2 separate regions of the Homo sapiens genome follow, and region 1 is linked to region 2. Evidence: fine-mapped expression QTL. A gene starts in region 2. The other region holds a variant in brackets. All regions are shown on one strand. Distances are between the middles of the regions.

Region 1 (4,370 bases), 220 kb after region 2:
CGTGACGCCCGCGGGCCAGCAGACCTGCCAGCAGGTGCAGGATGGCGGCGGGGTGGTCCGGGCAGAGGGCGCCGAGGAAGGCAGAGGCCAGCGACCCTGTCAGGGAGACCACTGCCATGCCGTCCCAGTGGATGGCGGGGATCTGGCTGTCCCCGCGGCACCAGGACTCCAGGGTGGCCACCACCGCCGCCCCCCGAGCCTGGGCCAGGGCAGTGCGCACACTCTGCAGGGCTGAGGGGGCGTGGCAGCTGAATGCAGCCAGGTAGAAGGCGGTGGCCAGGGGCAGCTCCCCCAGCGCCAGATGCTGCTCCCCCTCCCGGCAGAGGCAGGCCACGAGCTCCTGGGCTGACATCATGTCTGGGACCCCGACGGGCCCATGTCTGGTCCTCAGAGTACCTGGGGGTGGGGGAGCATGGTGAGTCCACAGAGGGCGGCCAGTTCTCCTGCCCTGTGGCCACCCGTGCCCAGCCTCAAGCCACCTCCACCCCTTCCCATTGACCCCACGGTCAGTGCAGACCCCACTGGGTGAAAACTGGGGGGATCCTGGGCTGGTGGGGTGGGGCCTACCAGGTGTCCCAGGCCAACTTCCAGCCCACTGTTCACCTCTGGGGCCTCAGTTTCGTGCCTTGCAGAATGGGACAGTGGCCTCCCCCAGCTCAGTTCCCTCTAAGAACATCTGACCCCTGAGTGTCCATGTCGGGAGGGTTACGGTGGCCCGAGGTGTCAGGGCCCAGCAATAGGAACCCCGGACCCACCCTCTGCCCCTCCCAACCCTGAGCCCCTCAGGAAGGCACACCCCCCGTCAGTCCAGGCAGCCCTCTCAGTGGGACGCAGGACCACACCCCTGCCCACCCTCTCACACCTGGGCCATTCGAGGGGGGCGCCGAGAGCACCTGCCAGGCCCTTGGGTCGGGGGAGCCACCCCAGCCCATGGGTGGGGGGGTTCAGTTTTGAGGTTGAGGTTCCAGGGACAGCCCCTGGTACTCCCCTATTCCCTGTCCCCAAGCTACTTGACCTGACGAACTAGCTCCGCACAGCCCTTTCTTCCCTCATCAAACAGGCAGCCCCCAGCATCCGCTCTCAGACACACACAGACACACTCACACTCGTCTGCAGCTTGGAGGCTGAGCCGGCTGTGCCCTGGGGACCCAGATTCCCTCGTGGGTGGTGGGGGACAGAGGGATGTGGCTGGCTGGAGGGCCCAGGCCTGGGTGGGGCTCCTATGACCGCCCCGTGTGGGTTGGGGAAGGCACAGCCTGCGGTTTCCCGGGAGAGTGTCAACACCCTTGGGTCTCCTGGCTGTCCTGCAGCGCCCCGCTGTGGCCAGAGGCTACCAGGCCGAGGTCCCACCCACACTGCCCCAGCCAGGCTCCAATGGGCTGCCTCAGAGCAGAGAACCCTGAGTTCATGGGGGTGTTGGGGGAGAAGGGGCCTGTGGGGTACAGCCCCCCATAGCCGGGGCCAGCCTCCACCCTGCCTGCTCTGCCAGGGTGCCCCCAGCCTCCTCTCCACATAGATGAGGAGGGCGCTTCCTGGAGGCAGGTGGGGGCCGCCTGCCCACCCAGTGCACTCAGGCTCTGGGTTTGTCCCCCAGAACTCCGCCTGGGCTGCTATGCGGGCCCCTCACCGCCCAGCCTCACTCCTCTTCTGGCAGGG[C/T]CCTGTCACCCGGTCCTGGGGCACCTCCCCACAGGCTGTTCCCTGTGCCGGCAGCTGGGACTGGACCTTCCGTGCACAGCCAGCCCATTTCCCTTGGCCGTCCTCCCTCTGAGAGGCTTAGGCAGCCCTGTCCTGCCTGCACCAGCTGAGCCAGCTGTGCCCTGGGGAGGGCAGGGCACATTAGCCGAGGGCACACCCCTCCCCCATCACAGGGTTGAGGCCCAGAGGCAGCTCTGGGAGCCATGACCTGAGCCTACTGCCCAGGGACCCTGATTGTTGCTGAGGAAGGGGTGGCAGCATAGGGACTATTTTAGGAAACATCACCTTCAGCCCGTGGCCACCGTCAGCCCATGCCGCAGGAGCAGAAAGACTGAGTGGGGTGGCTGGAGGCAGGCTCAGGTCCCTGAAGCTGAGACCCCACCACCGGCAGCTGCCCTGGAGGGCAGGCATGAGTGGGGGGAATGGGGGTGGTGCGTCCCTGAGAGAGGTCCCTCCCAATTCAGGATGCCAAGGTGCCCGGACACCAGGCCAATGCTGGCTCCTCTGTGGGGCTCAGGGAAGCAGGGTTGGGGGTGCCCTTTGGGGGAGGAGATCTTGGGAGTGGGGGGTGGCATCCCTGATCCCCTCGATGTCTGGGTCTCCTGAGACATGCCCCGCAGGCCCTTTGGGGAGGGTGTGGAGCCCCTGCAGCGTGGGCAGAGCAGTCAGGGTCAGTCTGAGGGTGCAGGGCAGGGGGGTCAGCAGGGCTGGGGCTGCCTGGCCCAGTTCTTCAGCTCCATGACATTCACCAGGGCCCAAGGCCTGTGCGGGTAATGCAGTGGGGGCAGTTTATTAAGAGATTGCCCATTACTCGGTGTTGATTACTTTCATTTTAATTGCCCTAATTAGGCGAGAGCTGTAATGGAGTGGGGCTGTCACCAGGGCTGTAGAAGAGCCCGGGGCACAGAGGTGGCAGGTCTGCGCGACAGTTGCCATCACAGCAGTGCCGATGGGCCCCCTGCGTCTCTGCCCTGTGCACAGTGCCCTGCCCGGGGCCCACAGGCACTGGCCAGATGAGCCTGGAAGTCTCGGAGGGTCCCGAGCTATGATCACAGCCCCTGCCTGAGAGCAGCACACCTGGATGCAGGTAATCCCAGGGCCGCCTCCACGCCACCTCCCAATCCGCACTCTCGTCTCTGATTCTGCCACAGACAAAAGTGGGCGGCTGAGCCGGACAGGGAGGCCGAGGCCGGTGCCTGGTAGTCTCAGGGTCTCGTGTTCGGGTTTGTGCTGCTTTAGTTTATGAGTCAAAAGGATTTCCAACATTTCCAACTTGAGGCTAGCGGGGGGCGGGGGATACTGCTCATTTGCCCTCTGCACACTTTCCCATTCAAGACCATTAGCGCACTGACAGCGTAGGGAGCTGGCTCATCTGACGCTTCAGGGGGAAACAGGGTTTGAGGGTGATGGAAGCATTCAGCCCTGACTGGACCCACAACAACTACTTGTCCTTACAGACCCCTGCGAAGAGCCCAGGAGCTGCTTCCGACGCCCTGGGAGCCGCTCCTCCTGCTCTGAGCCTGCTTGGCTGCCCCCGTTTATGTGGTCGGACCTGGCTGGGTGGAGGGAGGGGCAGGACTCCGAGTCAGCACCCAGCAACGACCCCCTCACTCCTTGCACTCAGACTTGCAGAAATGAAAGGGCCTGGTTCCCACGCCGGGGCCGAGCAGGAGCACATGGTCCCCACCAGAGATGCCCTTAGGAGAGTCCGCAGCTGGCAGGACCCGTCCCAGTCACACCGAAGGCCTGGGATAAAGACGCCACCCTCTGGGAAGAGCTCTGAGCCCTGTCACCAGAATGTTCTTGAAGCCAGCAGTGAAAACAGTTGACTTGGTGGGAGCCGGGGATGGCCTTGAGGCTGACCTCATGTGCTCATGGCTCACAGGGCCGTGCATGGGCTGCTGGGGCAGGCATGGCTGCAGGCGGGGCTCACTCTGCCCTTTCTGCAGGTGGCACAGAGCAGCGAGGCGCCCGCCCCAGGACCAGGCTCTCCAGCCTGTTTGGAGCTCCTTTTCTGCTCCCCAAGAGTGGACACGGGTGTGCCTATTGGGCAAGGGAATCTTTTGGAACCTTTCCCAGGGCCTCTTCAGAGGCTCCTCGAGAGGGACGGGCAGGAGGAATCCAGCACACGTGTTGTCTTTATACAAACAGGTGCGCTTCATTCACCCTAGTCAGTGGAACCCCCTGCCCTCCAGACACCTGAGTGCCCTCAAAGGTCAGGCATGCAACTGGGAGGCGGGGTCTGGCCGTGAACTGCTGCTGCCAAGCACCTGCCTGCAGGCTCCGCCGAGGCCCCACCAGCACCAGCAGCCCCGAGGCTGTTCCTCCCCAGCTGGAAGGGAGGTCTGCACCCTCCTGCCACTGGGGGCTGCCAGCGTGGCAACAATTTGGGGCCCTTGGTGACCTTGGGGGTGGCGGGCACGTGTCCTTGTCCCCTACCATCACAGCACAAAGGGAGGGATCCCCACAGCCTAGGCCTGGGGCCCAGGCCTGCACTGCCTTTGGCAGTGATGTTGCCTCCGTGCAGCTTCCCCAGGGCCACAGCCTCCCCACCTGCCTGCCCCTCTTCCCCCCGCAGGCGCTCACCTGGGGAAGCAGATTACTTTGGGCTAAGCCAGCCCCAGTTAGAGAGGGGAAGCCTTAGCAACAGCTCGAGGCTGCGCCCCAAACCCCAA
Region 2 (4,370 bases):
TCACCTTTTCAGCCCCCCACATCATCTAGCTGCTTCCTCAAACCTCACTGTTCTCTGTCCAACTCAGCACACGACTGAGTCTGCTTCACTGGGTCTTCACTTCCTTAGGAGGGCTCCTGAGCCACATCCAACTTTAATCAAATACACTGGCATGATGATCTGTCTTATCTTGATTTAACTCTTGGGCCCAGCCAGGACCTCAAAAGGATGGAGGTGGAGTTTTTCAGCCCCTACATATGCAAACACACACATAGCATGTATCTGAGCGGCCACATGGGCTGGCCCTGCTATTTTCTTATGGCTTCTCAGCCTCCCAGCCACCTTCTGCTCTGCATCACTGGAGCTGGGAGGCTGCAAGCTCCTTTCCCACTCTCCTCTGCCCGTTGGCTTCCAGTGAGGCTCCTGCAGCGATGGCGTTGGTGGGAGATGCCAGGCGAGGAATTGATCTCGCATTCTCGTTTCTGGGAACGTCTCTGAAAATGGCTGAATCCCGTCTGGGATCCCAGCTCCCAAGGAGGCGGCAGCTTGCTCACTGCTTGCACAGCCCCAGACGGCAGAGGGGCCCTCTCCTGCACAGCCTGAGACAGTGGAGGGGCCCCCTCCTGCACAGCCCCAGAAGATAGAGGGGCCCCCTCCTGCACAGCCCGAGACAGTAGAGGGGCCCCCTCCTGCACAGCCTGAGACGGTGGGGGGGGGCCCTTCCTGCCCAGCCCCAGATGGTAGAGGGGCCCCCTCCTGCACAACTCCAGAGGGTAGAGGGCCCCTCCTGCACAGCCCGAGACGGTAGAGGGGTAGCCCTGGTCTCTGGGGGCTGCACTCCTGGGCTCTGGAGCTGCCACAGCTCCTCCCTCCTAGTGCTTCCCCTTCCTTGTTTTGCTTTTTGCCCTTTCTGACATAGTGACGACTTCCGTTTCGCAGTCTGGACCTTCACCACCCCAGGGCGAGGGCACAGGCGAAGCAGCAGCACCCCCCCGGGGCCTCTCTTTATTTGGAATACAGTGTGGGGGCTCCCCCTTCCTTCTCCAGCCCGCCCAGGCCCCTGGAGCTGTCCTGGGGCCTGGGGAGTGAGGACCCGTGCCAGCAGCACAGACTCTGCCAGGCCGGGCCCGCTCAGGTGGGAGCCCAGGCCGGGTGAAGCTGTGACCCGGCCCTCACCCCAACTCGGTGACAAAAGCTATCACAGGGCTGCAGTGGGGGAGGAACAGGACGCATCTGCCAGGCACCTGACCCGCAGTGCACTTCTGGGAGCTGTGCTTATCTCCCCGGGGTCTATTTCGCCCCAAGGTTTGGCGGGTTAAAAGCTGATATGCAACCGGCACGACATGAACAGTATTTCATGATTAAAGACATCGCGTCCATGTATAATTGAGATGCTGCCGCATTTGCGGGGATTTTCAAGCGAAAACCAGGCCACGTGGAAAGGCTAAGCCCTCGCACCCCCCCGCCCCCCACTGCTGGGACCCCCGCCCCGCGGGAGACCCCGGCCCGCGGTCCCCTATGCCCGCGACCCCTGCGCTCACCCTCTCCCCTCAACCCTGAGTCCAGCCCAGTCTCGCGCGAGGCCGCAGGGAGACCCCCGCCGCTCCCTGGACCACCCCTGGGCCCACCGTACCCAGCCGCTCCCCGGCGCCCCCCGGGACGACCCCGAGCCGGCTGCCCGCCTCCCGCCGCATTCCGCACAGGCGCACCGCGCACCGAGGGCCGCACCGCCCAGCTCCGCCTGCTGCGCCAATGGCCGACGGGGTCCAAGTCGGCGGCCCAACGGAGAGGCGGGGCTAGGGGCGGGACCAGGACGCGGGACAGCAACTGTCCCGCAAGGCCCGGATTGAGGAGGCGGGAGGGACCGAAGCAGGCGGACCCAGGATTTGGCGCCGCGATCTCGAGGCTTGGCCTGGAGTAGGAGGGGAAACAAGGCGGGACTAGGGGCGAATCCGAGGGGGCGGAGCAGGGCTCGGGGTGCGGTCGGGGGCGTGGCCGGGGCGCGCTGCGGCCATCTTGGGGGCGGGCCCGGGGCGGAGACGAGCCCGAAGGGGCGGGGCCTCGGCGGCAGCAAGAAAGGCGGGACCGGGGCATCTCGGGGCGGGGCTTGGGGCTGGATCTATGAGCCGGGAGCGGGGATCCAGGAGCGAGGAGCCGGGAGCGGGGAACAGGGAGTCGGGGAGCCGGGAACCAGGGCTGGCAGCGGCCGCCATGAGCACGGTGGACCTTGCTCGCGTGGGCGCGTGCATCCTGAAGCATGCGGTGACCGGGGAGGTGAGGCCGGGTGGACGCAGGGCGGTGGGCGCGTCCCTGGCTCCTTGCCCGGGCGTCCTGGCAGCGATGGGGTGGTGGGGGCCGCGGGGCCTGGGCGGGGCTGGGGGCAACGGGGCGCGCCCATGACCCAGCCGCCCGGCAGGCCGTGGAGCTGCGGAGCCTGTGGCGGGAGCACGCGTGCGTGGTGGCCGGGCTGCGGCGCTTCGGGTGCGTGGTGTGCCGCTGGATCGCCCAGGACCTCAGCAGCCTTGCTGGGCTCCTGGACCAACACGGCGTGCGCCTGGTGGGCGTAGGGCCCGAGGCCCTGGGTCTGCAGGAGTTCCTGGACGGCGACTACTTCGCGGGAGGTGCGTCCTGTTCCCCGCCGCGGCGGCGCACATACCCTTCCCTAAGCTCAGGGCGTTCGGGGCCCTTTCCTGCCCAACCCCGGCCCTTCTGTCTGCTGGAGCGGCCTTGATATGCCCACGGGTCAGCGTCCCTCATCTCTCCCTGCCTCCCCGCCCCGCAGCTGGTGGCTGGGTGGTGCCCTGCACAGACCTGGGCCCAGCAGCAGAGTCTGGACGAGCTCTGCCCCGCCGGCTCCACCTGTTGCCTCTGGGACTCAGCCCCTCTTCTGAGGGGAGGGGGGACACTCAGCCCCGTTTTACCCCTCCCTGCCCTGCGGGGGTGGGCTGAGCACGGAGGGTGGGCAGAGGAACAGAGGGTCGGAAGGAGGAGGGCGATTCTTTGTGGTGAGTGGGTTGGGGGCTGGTTCTGCGCCTGGGGCACACACATGTGGCTTCCGCTTTCCAGAGCTCTACCTGGATGAGAGCAAGCAGCTTTACAAGGAGCTAGGCTTCAAGCGGTGAGTGGGGGCGGGAACCCTTGGGTAGCGTGGGGTGGGGGGCCCAGGGGTTCCCACCGCTCCCTGCCACCTCCTCTCCCTGCTGCCCTCTGTGGTGCTGTCCACTCGGGCCTTCCTGGGCAAGGCGGCTCTGGTGGCACTGTTGACCAGCCCTTCTGCCAGGCCTTCTCTTGGGTGCTGGGTGACTGTAATGAGCCACCTCGTCCGGGGCTTACTCTCGGTGTCCAGACCACCTCGTGGGGTGGAGCCTCGTGGCCCATCAGGGGCCATCCTAGCTTTCTGGTGTCTGTGCCACAGGCTGCTTCCTTTGCTTGGCAGTTGCCAGCTGAGCCAGATCCCTGGGCACACCCAGCCTGGGGCCCCATCCATGCTCCCTGCACCCTCTGTGGACCCTCGGCTAGCAGCCACTGGGCTCGGTGTCCAACCTGCCGGTGGGCTGGGCTGGCTACTGATCTGGTCGCCTGTGCCATCTCTGAGCCCTGGTGAGGCGGGTGGGTGGGGTGGGGCCTGACCTAGGAACTGGTCTCATGGACACTGGAGCAGGCTCTGGACCCAGGCTTCTCCGGAGTTTGGCCAAGCGACCTGGTGTCTTCGCAGGTACAACAGCCTGAGCATCCTCCCAGCAGCTCTGGGGAAGCCCGTGCGTGATGTGGCTGCCAAGGTGTGTGCGGGTCAAGGGTGTACAGGCCGGGGGGTGGTGGGAGCTCCCAGGAGCCTTTCTTCTAGGATTGACTCAGGCTGTACCCACTCCTGACAGGCCAAGGCTGTTGGCATCCAGGGGAACTTGTCTGGGGACCTGCTGCAGAGCGGAGGGCTGCTGGTGGTCAGCAAAGGTGGGTCGAGGGAGGGGCCTCGGCCACTGCCTCAAGGAGGGCCTTGCTGAACTTGGTGGCCCAGCCCAGGCCCTCTCTCTGGCTTGTCAGTCTCATCACAGCCCCTCCGCCGCAATGTGGCCTGGTTCTGCGTGTCTGCTGGGCTGAGTGGGGCTGTGGCAGAACAGCTCACTCATCTGGGTAGCCGGGTGGGGGATATGGCTGGCCAGGGCTGCCCTACCCTCCCTCCTCCTGGTATGTGGCTGTGAGGTGCAGGCGGCCTCCGGGGTGCCGTGACTGCCTGCCCGCTGCTACAGGTGGTGATAAAGTGCTCCTGCATTTCGTCCAGAAGTCCCCAGGCGACTACGTCCCCAAGGAGCACATCCTGCAGGTCCTGGGCATCTCTGCGGAGGTCTGTGCCAGCGACCCGCCTCAGGTGAGCTGGGCCTTGGGGGCGCTGC

Which allele goes with the higher level. Alleles are on the strand shown, and positions count from the first base shown. SD is a standard deviation of normalised expression in the study named.
For the expression in atrial appendage of the gene that starts at base 2,082 in region 2, T is the low allele of the variant in region 1 and C is the other (large effect, 0.94 SD a copy in GTEx).

What was found. PIP is the estimated chance that this variant, and not a neighbour inherited with it, causes the effect.
Region 1: its variant is the best candidate, but not a certain one, in a credible set for the expression of PRXL2B in atrial appendage (GTEx, PIP 0.59).

The regions. Positions count from the first base shown.
Region 1 is chr1:2,800,473-2,804,842 of GRCh38, forward strand. TTC34 (tetratricopeptide repeat domain 34) reads right to left here and starts at 1,221. Exons shown (of 9, transcript NM_001242672.3): 1 at 1,105-1,221; 2 at 1-396. The coding sequence starts at 355. The variant C/T (reference allele first, on the strand shown) is at 1,657.
Region 2 is chr1:2,584,696-2,589,065 of GRCh38, forward strand. It overlaps PRXL2B (peroxiredoxin like 2B), which reads left to right and starts at 2,082. Exons shown (of 7, transcript NM_152371.5): 1 at 2,082-2,253; 2 at 2,396-2,600; 3 at 3,046-3,097; 4 at 3,695-3,758; 5 at 3,855-3,930; 6 at 4,227-4,345. The coding sequence starts at 2,191. RefSeq lists an enhancer at 2,890-3,522.